2 separate regions of the Homo sapiens genome follow, and region 1 is linked to region 2. Evidence: fine-mapped expression QTL. Tissue or cell type: testis. Region 2 holds a variant in brackets; the other region holds the start of a gene. All regions are shown on one strand. Distances are between the middles of the regions.

Region 1 (5,151 bases), 370 kb before region 2:
TGCTCTGTGGTCCAGGCTAGAGTGCAGTGGTGCGATCTTGGCTCACTGCAACCTCCAGCTCCAGGGCCCAAGTGATCCTCCCACCTCAGCCTCCCCAGGAGCTGGGACTACAGGCATGCACCACCATGCCTGGCTAATTTTTTTATTTTTTGTAGAGATGAGGTTTCACCATGTTGCCCAGGCTGGTCTCAAAATCGTTCAACACAGCAATACTCCTGCCTCAGCTTCCCCAAGTGCTGGGATTACAGGTGTGAGCCACCATGCCTGGCCTGCAGTCTACTTTTTTTTCTTTTCTTTTCTTTTTTTTTTTTTTTTGATACAGAGTCTTGATCTGTTGCCCAGGCTGGAGTTCAGTGGCATGATCTCGGCTCACTGCAACCTCCGCCTCCTGGGTTCAAGCAATTCTGCCTCAGCCTCCTGAGTAGCTGGGACTACAGGCAACTGACACCATGCCCGGCTAATTTTTGTATTTTTAGTAGAGATGGGGTTTCACCATATTGGCCAGGCTGGTCTTGAACTCCTGACCTCAAGTGATCCGCCCGCCTCGGCTTCCCCAAGTGCTGGAATTACAGGTGTGAGCCACCGTACCCTGCCTGCAGTCTACTTTTCAATCACATAAATCAGATCCCACAATGCTTCTGCACAGTATCTTTTAACTGCATCCCATCATATTTAGAAAAAGGCACAAGTCTTTCACCATGGTCCACAAGGCCCTACATGATCTGGCCCTGCTTATCGCTCTCCTTTGCTCACTCCATCCCAAACACATGGAACTTCCTGCTCTTCGCTGAACACACCAAGCTCATTTCTGCTTAAAGGCATTTGCAGTGCTATTCCCTCCTTCTGACACTCACTTCTCCCTGATTTCTGGTTTACTCCCTCACTTCATTTAAGTCTCTGTTCAAACGCCATCTCCTCAGAGAGGACTTTCACAACCGCCCTATTTAAAACTGAAGTCCCAAAGAAGGCGGATCACTTGAGGTCAGGAGTTAGAGATCAGCCTGGCCAACATGGCAAAACCCTGTCTCTACTAAAAATACAAAAATAATTAGCTAGGGGTGGTGGCGCAACTGTAATCCCTATTACTCCAGAGGCTGAGGCAGGAGAATTGCTTCAATCTGGGAAGTGGAGGTTGCAGTGAGCCGAGATCGTGCCACTGCACTCCAGCCTGGGTGACAGAGTGAGACCCTGTCTCAAAAAAAAAAATGATAAATAATAAAATAAAACTGAAGTCCCATCCCCTATTCTTTTACTCTGATTTACTTTCCTGTATTCTTTAACACTGCCTCTTAATAGTTATATATTGTTTATCACCTACCCACTAGAATGGGGATGTTCGTATCTTTTTCACTGTAATTTGCAATATTCACCAGCACCTAGAACGGTGCCTCACAATTCACCAGCACCTAGCACACAGCAGCCTCACAATAAATATATATTAAATACATGAATTTCATTCTCACCAGTCATTCAATTCCTATGACCTTGAGTAATTCGTTGAGCAAACACCCAAGCTCTGACTCTTAAATAAAAGCAATAAAACAAAGTTTTGTCCTTGCCATCAAATTCTATATATCCGGAGGCCAAGAACTATAGCAGCTTTTCCTATGGATTTAGGGCCGGAAAACTCTAGCTCCTCCAGACAGAACTTGTAGCAACCTGAATCATGAAATTAAGGGGTAGTAAACAGTCTCAGCTGTAAAAACGTTCAAAACAAGACCACATCTAAATGCCACAATCAGGTTTTAAAGGCCAGCTCTCTACCCTCCAATAACTGGTATTTACCAACACCCCCAAATTATGACTCCTTTGGGTTTTTAACCCTTTTTCTGTGCTACGGATCCTCTGTCAGTCTGGTGAAAACTAGACCTGTCTTGAGACTAGTGCTTTTAAATGCATAAAACAAACAAAAACAGCTATGAAAGAAACCCACTCTACATTACAGGACCGCAGATGCAAAAGCCCCTCTGCTCTATTTGCCACAGTGAAAAAAGATGAGAAAATGTGGAAGGCCATAGAAGGATCCCAGGGAACTGAATCCCGAGGTCCAATTTACTCTCAGTGGCAGCAGGGAGACCTGGGGCTGGGACAAGCCAGCCCTAGGGGGCGTGTCTGAGGACGCGGAGGGAGGAGACGCGGGCCCGGGTCTGGGAGGAAGGTGGGAGAATCTTCCTTCCAAAGCGCGCAGGGCTGCGCTCCCCACGGCGTGGCCCACCCCCGCCTCACCGGTCCCCGCCGTCCCCAGCAGCCGCTCGGGCACCCCTTGTAGGTCTTCATGGAGGCCGCGGAAGATCTCGTGCAGCTTCTCGAAATGCTCCGAGGAGGCGGCGGAGGAGGCCATGGCGCAGGCCGCGCTGGAGCAGCGGCCACCGAGATTCGGGGCCCTGGGCCCTTTCCTAGCCCGGCGGTCAGCCGCCCAGCCCAGTGGCCATAACGGCGACCGCCGCACCACCGCCGCCCAGGACGAGGCTCTTCCGGAGCCGCGGCAGGGTCCTCTCGAGCCGGAACGCCCACCTTCTCCAGCCAGTGATTGCTGGAGCGCCGGCGCGAAAGCCTGACGAGAAGTCGGGAGACTGCGCGGCCTAGGCGACTCCTGAGGGAGCGGTGCCGCGCCGGGGCGATCGGCAGTCGCGGAACCCGAGAAGTGCCGGGTCCGGGTTGGGGAAAGGCCGCAGCGAAAGGGGCCTAGGGGACCTGCGGGACTGGCAGCGCGGCCGCCTTCCTCCCGGGCCCCGCCGGCCGGCGAGGGGCGGGCGCTGCAGTGCACGCCGGGGGATGTAGTTTGGCTCGGACGAGAGCGTCTCGTCCCGGGGTCGCGCGTTGCTCCGGGTGCCAGGTTCAGCCCGCGCGGCGACAGCGGGCTTCGGCCCGATTTGATGTATGTTTGCGTCTAGACGTCGTCCTCACTGTCATCGCGCTTTGCTTTGCCACCCTGACCCGAATTCCTCGTTTCGCGTCTTGACTGTTAGCTTTCGGCCCTGGAAAGATAGCCGGGCCAGGGGCTCTGCCTGCCGTCGGGAGGTGGAGCACTTTTCTTGGAAGGCCCAGCGGCTCCCCAAGCTTTCAGAAGTGGAACCCGGCCGGGCGAGTGGCTCGCGCCTGTAATCCCAGTACTTTGGGAGGCCGAGGTGGGAGGATTGCTTGAACCCAGTAGTTCGAGACCAGCCTGGGCACAATAGCGAGAGCTCTACCAGAAACCCAAAATAAGAACCGGGCATGGTGGCGCGCACTTTTGGCCCCAGCTACCCCCGGAGGCTGAGGTCCCACCACTGCACTCCAGCTTTGGGAGACCTTGCTCCCAAGTGGAGCGAGATCTTGTCTCCAAAAAAACAAAAAACCCAAAAACCAAAAATTCAAAAGTGGAACCCAGTTAGGATGACCTCGAAATACTCTAGCTGCTAGGCCCGAGTAATTCTCCTCGTGGAGACTAATTCTCCTCCTAGGCTGCCTCGTGCACTTGTTGACAACAGGTGTTTGTCAAGCGTAGGCATTGCGAGGGATCTGGGCATGTTGGTGAATAAAACATTTAATCTCTGCTCCAGGGGAATTTATAATCTGGTGTGGAAGGTGGGCCTGGCTTCATTAGGTCTCATCTGCCACTAAGTGTCACGTGTTAAAAATTACAAGGTCCCTTCTTGCACTCCATGGGTATAAATTCCTGTCTTCACGTCGGGCATGGTGGCTCACGCGTCATCCCAGCACTTTGGGAGGCCGAGGCGGGCGGATCACTTCAGGTCAAGAGTTCAAGACCAGCCTGGCCAACATGGTGAAACCCCCGTCTCTGCTAAAAACACAAAAATTAGCCAAGCGTGGTGGTGGGCGCCTGTAACCCCAGCTACTCGGGAGGCTGAGGCAGGAGAATCGCCTGAACCCGGGAGGCAGTGGTTGCAGTGAGCTGAGATCGTGCCACCACACTCCAGCCTGGGTGACAGAGAAGACCCTATCTCAAAAAATTAAAATAAATTATTATTTTCACCGATTTCACGGTTTGCTCAAGGTGTCTGTTCTCAAATGTTTGCTTGGGAGTTCAATTTTAAACTGCCTACAAATATTAAAAGATGTATGACTGCTCAGGAGAAAATGCTTTGCTAATTTGTATCTCCTGGGCCCTCATTTTTATTAGATCAAGTTCATTGGCTGTTGATTCAACACACTTTGGTTAAGCTCTTAATATGCACTGAGCATAGACATGACCAAGTCTGAGGATAGTCAGTATACTGTGTAAGTCCCACAGCACAATGCTGGGACTTGTCACAGTACAGAAATAAGGGGCAGGTGCAAAAAAAGGATCAATAGCCTGGGGCCGGGTGCTGCGGCTCACACCTGTACCCCAGCACTTTGGGAGGCCAAGGTGGGAGGATCGCTTGAGCCCAGAGTTTGAGGCCAGCCTGGGCAACAAAGCAAGACGCTGTCTCTAATTAAAAAGAAAGGAAAAAAAAATGGCCCGGGATGATCAAGAAATGTGGAAAAAGTGTCTGTGAAGAGTGTCAAAAAAGGTTAAGTAGGAAATGGTGAATGAACAATTAGATTATCACACAACCTAAATTAATAGCATGTGGATTGAGATTACACTGTAGCTAGACTCTGGAACAAATTATTCTTTAGAATGAGAAATCATTGCACAACCATAATAATGAACAGTGTTTTCTTCTTTTGACTGTAATCAAACTTTTAATTCTTAGTTTTTATTCTGGTAAATGAAAACAAAAAATAATCAAAAAGAATTTTTATTTGTCATTGACAGTTCAATATAAATTAAGTAAAACATTAATTCATTTATTCTGCACTATTATCAGAATTTTTCTAATTTTTCCGTAAAATGACCATTTCTAAACATATAGCTTAATGGTCAAAACAAGTGCAATAAAAGATTAATTTACAAGTATCAGAAGTGAAGACTGTGGTCCTATAACTCTTTCCCCCACCAAAGTTAAAATATAATTGTCATTCCAGGAAATCAAAATCTTTTAGAATAGCACACTCCAAACAAGTGATGGGAACACTACTAATTCCTTAGACTTCCTTTGGCAGCATTACTTTTGATAAGAAGTCTCCAAATAAAATACAAAATTTTGGCACAGACATTTTAATCTTGTCAAGACAATGTAAGGAAATGCCCCAAAATATTATTAAATTGACCATAATTACCAA
Region 2 (5,151 bases):
TGGAATAAGCTCTCTAATTCTCTGAGTGGTTTACTTCAGTTAGAGGGATTAGTGAATTAGCTTTGGATTTGCTTATAATTTCCTCTTTTATCTTTTACAAATTAAAAAGTTGGTATCGGCATGTAATGATAGCATCTAAAACATTTATGTTGTGGTGGTTGTATCATAGAAAACATTCTTTAGGATTCAATTATAAGCAGCCTCCTTCCATTAGCATGTCAAGTTTTTCTGAGCAGTTTTATTTGTGAAAAATCAGTACAGATATTTTTATTCATAGCTTGATATCCTTTTTTTTTTTCTTACTCAAATGAATATCTGTTTCCTACCTTTCTCCCTCAAGATGCAGTGGTGCTTTTATTATTTGATTTTGTAAAGCCTGAAGGGCAGAAATATTTCTTAAGTTTTCCATTGTTAACTACAAACTTGGCTATATAAAATATACAAATCATAATATCTGTATGGTTATTTTTATTGTCATTTCTTTAACACACAAAATTTATCACATTTATGCAAGAATTTTTTAACTTAGAAAACTCAAAATTGATATGTAAATTGGGTGGTAGCAACAATGTGTGGGATGTGGTACGTGGCCAATGATGTGTTGGAGGCAGCCCCCACCAGCTCCCAAGATCTAGTGATTAAATTTTCAGAAATTTTGTGAGCCAGTTATCAGTAAAAATTAAACTATATAAACTTACAATTAAATAAATTATTTAAAAACAAAGATAATACTCAAAACTCAGTAATTATGTTTTACTACATTTTATTATCTATGCTCTTGAGGTTATTTGTGTCTCTTGTATCTGTATTGGAAATACTATATAATGGTGTATACTATTGTATATCTCTTCACAACTTCATGTTCATTAACATCATGTTGATAGCTTCAAATTAGCCATGGTAGAAGTATTAACACCATGAAAATCAGCAAACACAACCAATCAGGGGCTGATTTATTGTTTTGCTGATTGTCTAGACTTAAGAAAGTGATGGAAAAAATGTTAATAACACATATTAAAAAGTGTGTTATATCTGGCCGGGTGCGGTGGCTCATGCTGTAATCCCAGCACTTTGGGAGGCTGAGGCAGGCAGATCACAAGGTCAGGAGATCGAGAACCATCCTGGCCAACATGGTGAAACCCCATCTGTACTAAAAATAAAAAATTTGCTGGGTGTGGTGGCGCATGCCTGTAATCCCAGCTACTCAGGAGGCTGAGGCAGGAGAATCGCTTGAACCTGAGAGGCGAAGGTTGCTGTGAGCCATTATGGCGCCACTGCACTCCAGCCTGGTGACAGAGCGAGACTTCATTCCAAAAAAAAAAAAAAAAAAAAAGTGTGTTATATATCTATAACCATTATACTATGAATAGCACCAAAAACTTGAGAAAATATTCTTTCAGGACAGTATTTGAAAACTATTATCTAATTCATTGGAGAAGTGGTTCACGTCACAGACAAGTGAATGACTGAAGTTTGGGCATATGCCTGTGTTTACCTTTTATTTATTAACTAAACAAACCCATCAGCCTTCTACAGCAAAATTGTAAGAATGAGATGTTGCTTCAAGTACATCAGACATTAGATGCTACATACATCAGGAAGCCTTTTATAGTTCTCTTTTGAAAACTGTACTACTCATAATATGCTGTTTCCTACTCACCTATGACCCTAGACTTCCTGTTTGCTCTAATGGTTGCTGTTAAAGGTATGACAAATTCAGCTGTAAAGTGTTTAGTTATCCACATCCATCTCTTTGACCACAAATTACCTAAGAATGGTGTTACACTACTTTTGTGGGAAAAGAGAAACATCATAATACTGGATACATAAAATCATAGCTTTTCCTTTCCTTGGGGGAATAATTCTGTTATCTACCCACTGTTGGGAGGTAGTTTAGATTGGTTAATGTAAGTATCAAGGGGGAAAATGGCTGTATTCAACAGAATTTGTTTCCCTTAATCTTATGGATAGCTTCACAATTCATGATAGCATAGTTATGCAACATATATGAATAAGGATGAAGATGAGTATCATTTGATTAAAGTATAGCTTCTAAGACTTAAATGACCAGAAAGAATTGAACTGCGTTTAAACTCTACCACACACCTGCTCCTTATAGTAGGATAATCTGGTCAAGCCCTTGACTTCAAGGAGCTTGCTAACCCTGGTATTAATTGATGTTT[C/T]CCAAACTTTAGTCAACTGAGTATCATCCTCACCATATTTGTTCTATCTCTGTACCGCTTGTACTTTTATTTACTTTGTAATTTTTTAAATTAACTTTTTCTTTTAAACTTAGCTTTATCCTAAGTGATAATACTCATGAAATCTTGGGTTTAAGGTAATAGTTATGTTTTTTCTAGTATCTATTAAAATATTGCCTAACAATTACAATTTTAGAAAGACTTTTCTTTTTACCACCAATGGTATGTCTATTTTGCTTTGGGAACTATTGTGCTAGTGATGATAATAGCTAGGCATTAAGTTAAATTGTCTTGTTTGTTCCTCACATCAATGTGATAAGCGTTGCTCTCTCTATTCAGTAAATGAAGACACCAAAAAATCAGAGAAGTTCAACAACTTGTCCAGGTCATGAGGCAAGCCAGAACTTACCTGGGTAAGGTCCATATGAGCCCTTGGTCCTCACAGCATTCTTAGAGAATCACCCGGGAGCTTTTTGAAAATGCAAAATCTCTGGCCTCACTCCAGACCTCCTGAATCAGAATCTGCATTTGAACAAGATCCTCCAGGTGATTCTCATGCACATTAAAGTTTGAGAAGCACTGAGCTTAACATTTGGGTATTCTGCCTCCCGTAGGAGAAGATGGGTGACTGGGTCATTAGTTTGGTTGTTCTGTGATCTGGTTTGGCTCTGTGTGCCCACCTAAATCTCATGTTGAACTATAATTCCCAGTGTTGTGGGAGGGACCTGGTGGGAAGTGATTGGATCATGGGGGTGAATTTCCCTTTTGCTGTTCTTGTGATAGTGAGTGAGTTCTCATGAGATCTGGTTATTTAAAAGTGTATAGCCCTTTCCGCCTTTGCTCTCTCTCCTGTTCTGCCATGTGAAGATGTGCAGGCATCCCCTTCGCCTCCTGCCACAGTTGTAAGTTTCCTGAGGCTTCCTCAGCCATGCTTCCTTAACAGCCTGTGGAACCGTGAGCCAACTAAACCTCTTTCTTTATAAATTACCCAGTCTCAGGTAGTTCTTTATAGCAGTGTGAGAATGCACTAATACAGTCTCCTTGTCTCTCTGTAGTGTTATTTTCTTCATGCCATGCTATTCTGAGCTGCAACTATTTTTGAGCCATGTGATATTGATGCTAAGGTAGAAGATAATATTCTCAATCCTTTTGATTATTTTTTCTCTCCTAAAGTCATAATTTGTCCACTTTCCTTCCTTCCTTAATTGGAGTACCAGGACTAGCCTGAGGGTCAACATTTATACTCTCTTTTTTTTTTTTAATCCTTGTTTTCTTCCCCAGCAGCCACAGGTCAAGTTCTTGCCCCTTCTAATGGTCTGGTCATTTCTTTTCCTGTCTGCCTGAAACTGGCAGACCCTGAGAACTGTCTACAGGCCTATAGCTAATTCTCAGTTTTTCCTGGATAGTTTTAATAGTATGGATGTCATCCTGACTCTTAGCTTCTTTTCCTTCTCCCACCAGTTCTCTGCCATTCAGCTATTTTACCGCTGCTTTTCTTTTTACTAAGATGTGCCTATCTCTGCATCCATGAGGCCTCTGTTTCCATTCTACCTTGCAGCCATCTGCTTCTCACTTTTGCTGTTGTTGCTCGTAATTGTAAGTTTAATATAAGCAGCAGCCTCAGGAGACCCCATGAAAGCAATCTTCTGGAAACAGTCAAAGTGCTGGGAATTTGATGGTTGGATCTGGGAATATCAATAATGTCTACAACTGATGAATGTAGCTGGCTATAGATTCTGAAGTACTCCAGTGCGTCATCAGCATTTCATGAGTATACTGTCTGTGTGATTTTTTCACAGAGTTTCCCTTTGAATTTTATGTCTGCAGAGTTTCTAAACACTGCACCTGGCTCATACAGTTACAAGCCTTCTTTCTCAGTATTTATATAGTTGTTTATTCAGTCTCCAAGATGATTAGTTATTTGAGATGAGTAGAAGTTGCATCTATTCATGTAATCAGAGCTTGTTTTCTTGCTCACTGGTGGCCAGATACAGGTCATAATAGTATTTTATTTTCTTAACTTTGAATAGCGTTAAAGGGGAGTGGACTCATTTGAATTACAGGAGGTACTGAAAGAAAACTATATTATTCATTACATTTTGTAAAGCAAGGAACAAAGAGGAATAGTTGTTTCCTACCATGGTAATTTCAGACTCTGAAAGATCTGTTTATAAGCCAAATGTAGACATACCTATCCCTAACCCAGATTTTTTTATGGTCTTCAATTTTGTAATTATTTAGAATTGAAGGGTTTTTTTTCCTTTCTGCCACATATTTTTGTACACACCCTTTCTCCCTCCCCTTTCCCATGCTTTTGTTTCCTTGAGAAAAGGAGCGTCCCTCTTAGAGCATAGAATAAACATTCTTTGTGAAGTGTGACTTATTTATGCTTCAGGGGTTGTCAGTGTATACACAATAGAGAAGGTGATGGAGGCTCCGAGGCATGCCAAGTCAGCACTTTGTGCATGTTGAGGCCAAAGAGCATGTTAAGCAGGCTTAAAAAATTTTAACAAGTCAGAACATTTTACAATTTCCATATTTATCAAACATGTCAGGGGATGGGATCACAAAGCCTTCCAGGGATTAACTGCCTCTCTGACTTGAACTGTTTTATTAAGATGGAAGAAGCCAAGTTCTCAACACCCTGTGATTTGCTCTAATAACCACAAGAATCAGAATGTAGGTGATCCTTGCTGAATGAAAGCAATCCTAAGGCTAAATGCTCTTTGAATGGGGAAAAAAAAAAACTCTCTCAACAGATGAACTATGTGTGAAACTTTCTAACAGAGCTTAGGAGTTTGAAGTTTATTTACCTAGAGCTTCAGTTTTATTAATTCTCTGGTTGGTGGTTCTTGACCTTTGACACCCAAGGACTTAGACTGTGAAGCCTAAATAGAAGGCATTCAGAAACCTGAAGACATTCTCAAAGAGGGGTGGCCATTGGCTTTTT

Which allele goes with the higher level. Positions count from the first base shown, and alleles are read on the strand shown. Sizes are in standard deviations (SD) of each study's normalised expression.
As copies of T replace C in region 2, the expression in testis of the gene that starts at base 2,484 in region 1 goes down (large effect, 1.3 SD a copy in GTEx).

The links. PIP is the estimated chance that this variant, and not a neighbour inherited with it, causes the effect.
Region 1: it holds the start of VTI1B, and the variant in region 2 is fine-mapped to the expression of VTI1B in testis (GTEx, PIP above 0.99).

The regions. Positions count from the first base shown.
Region 1 is chr14:67,672,149-67,677,299 of GRCh38, forward strand. It overlaps VTI1B (vesicle transport through interaction with t-SNAREs 1B), which reads right to left and starts at 2,484. Exons shown (of 6, transcript NM_006370.3): 1 at 2,227-2,484. The coding sequence starts at 2,341. RDH11 (retinol dehydrogenase 11) reads right to left here. Exons shown (of 7, transcript NM_016026.4): 7 at 4,652-5,151. It also overlaps a transcript of GPHN not described here. RefSeq lists silencers at 2,159-2,268, 2,369-2,808.
Region 2 is chr14:68,038,115-68,043,265 of GRCh38, forward strand. All of the region lies in intron 7 of RAD51B (RAD51 paralog B), which reads left to right. Among named protein-coding and RNA genes, the nearest start is that of RAD51B, 220 kb to the left of the region's middle. The variant C/T (reference allele first, on the strand shown) is at 2,184.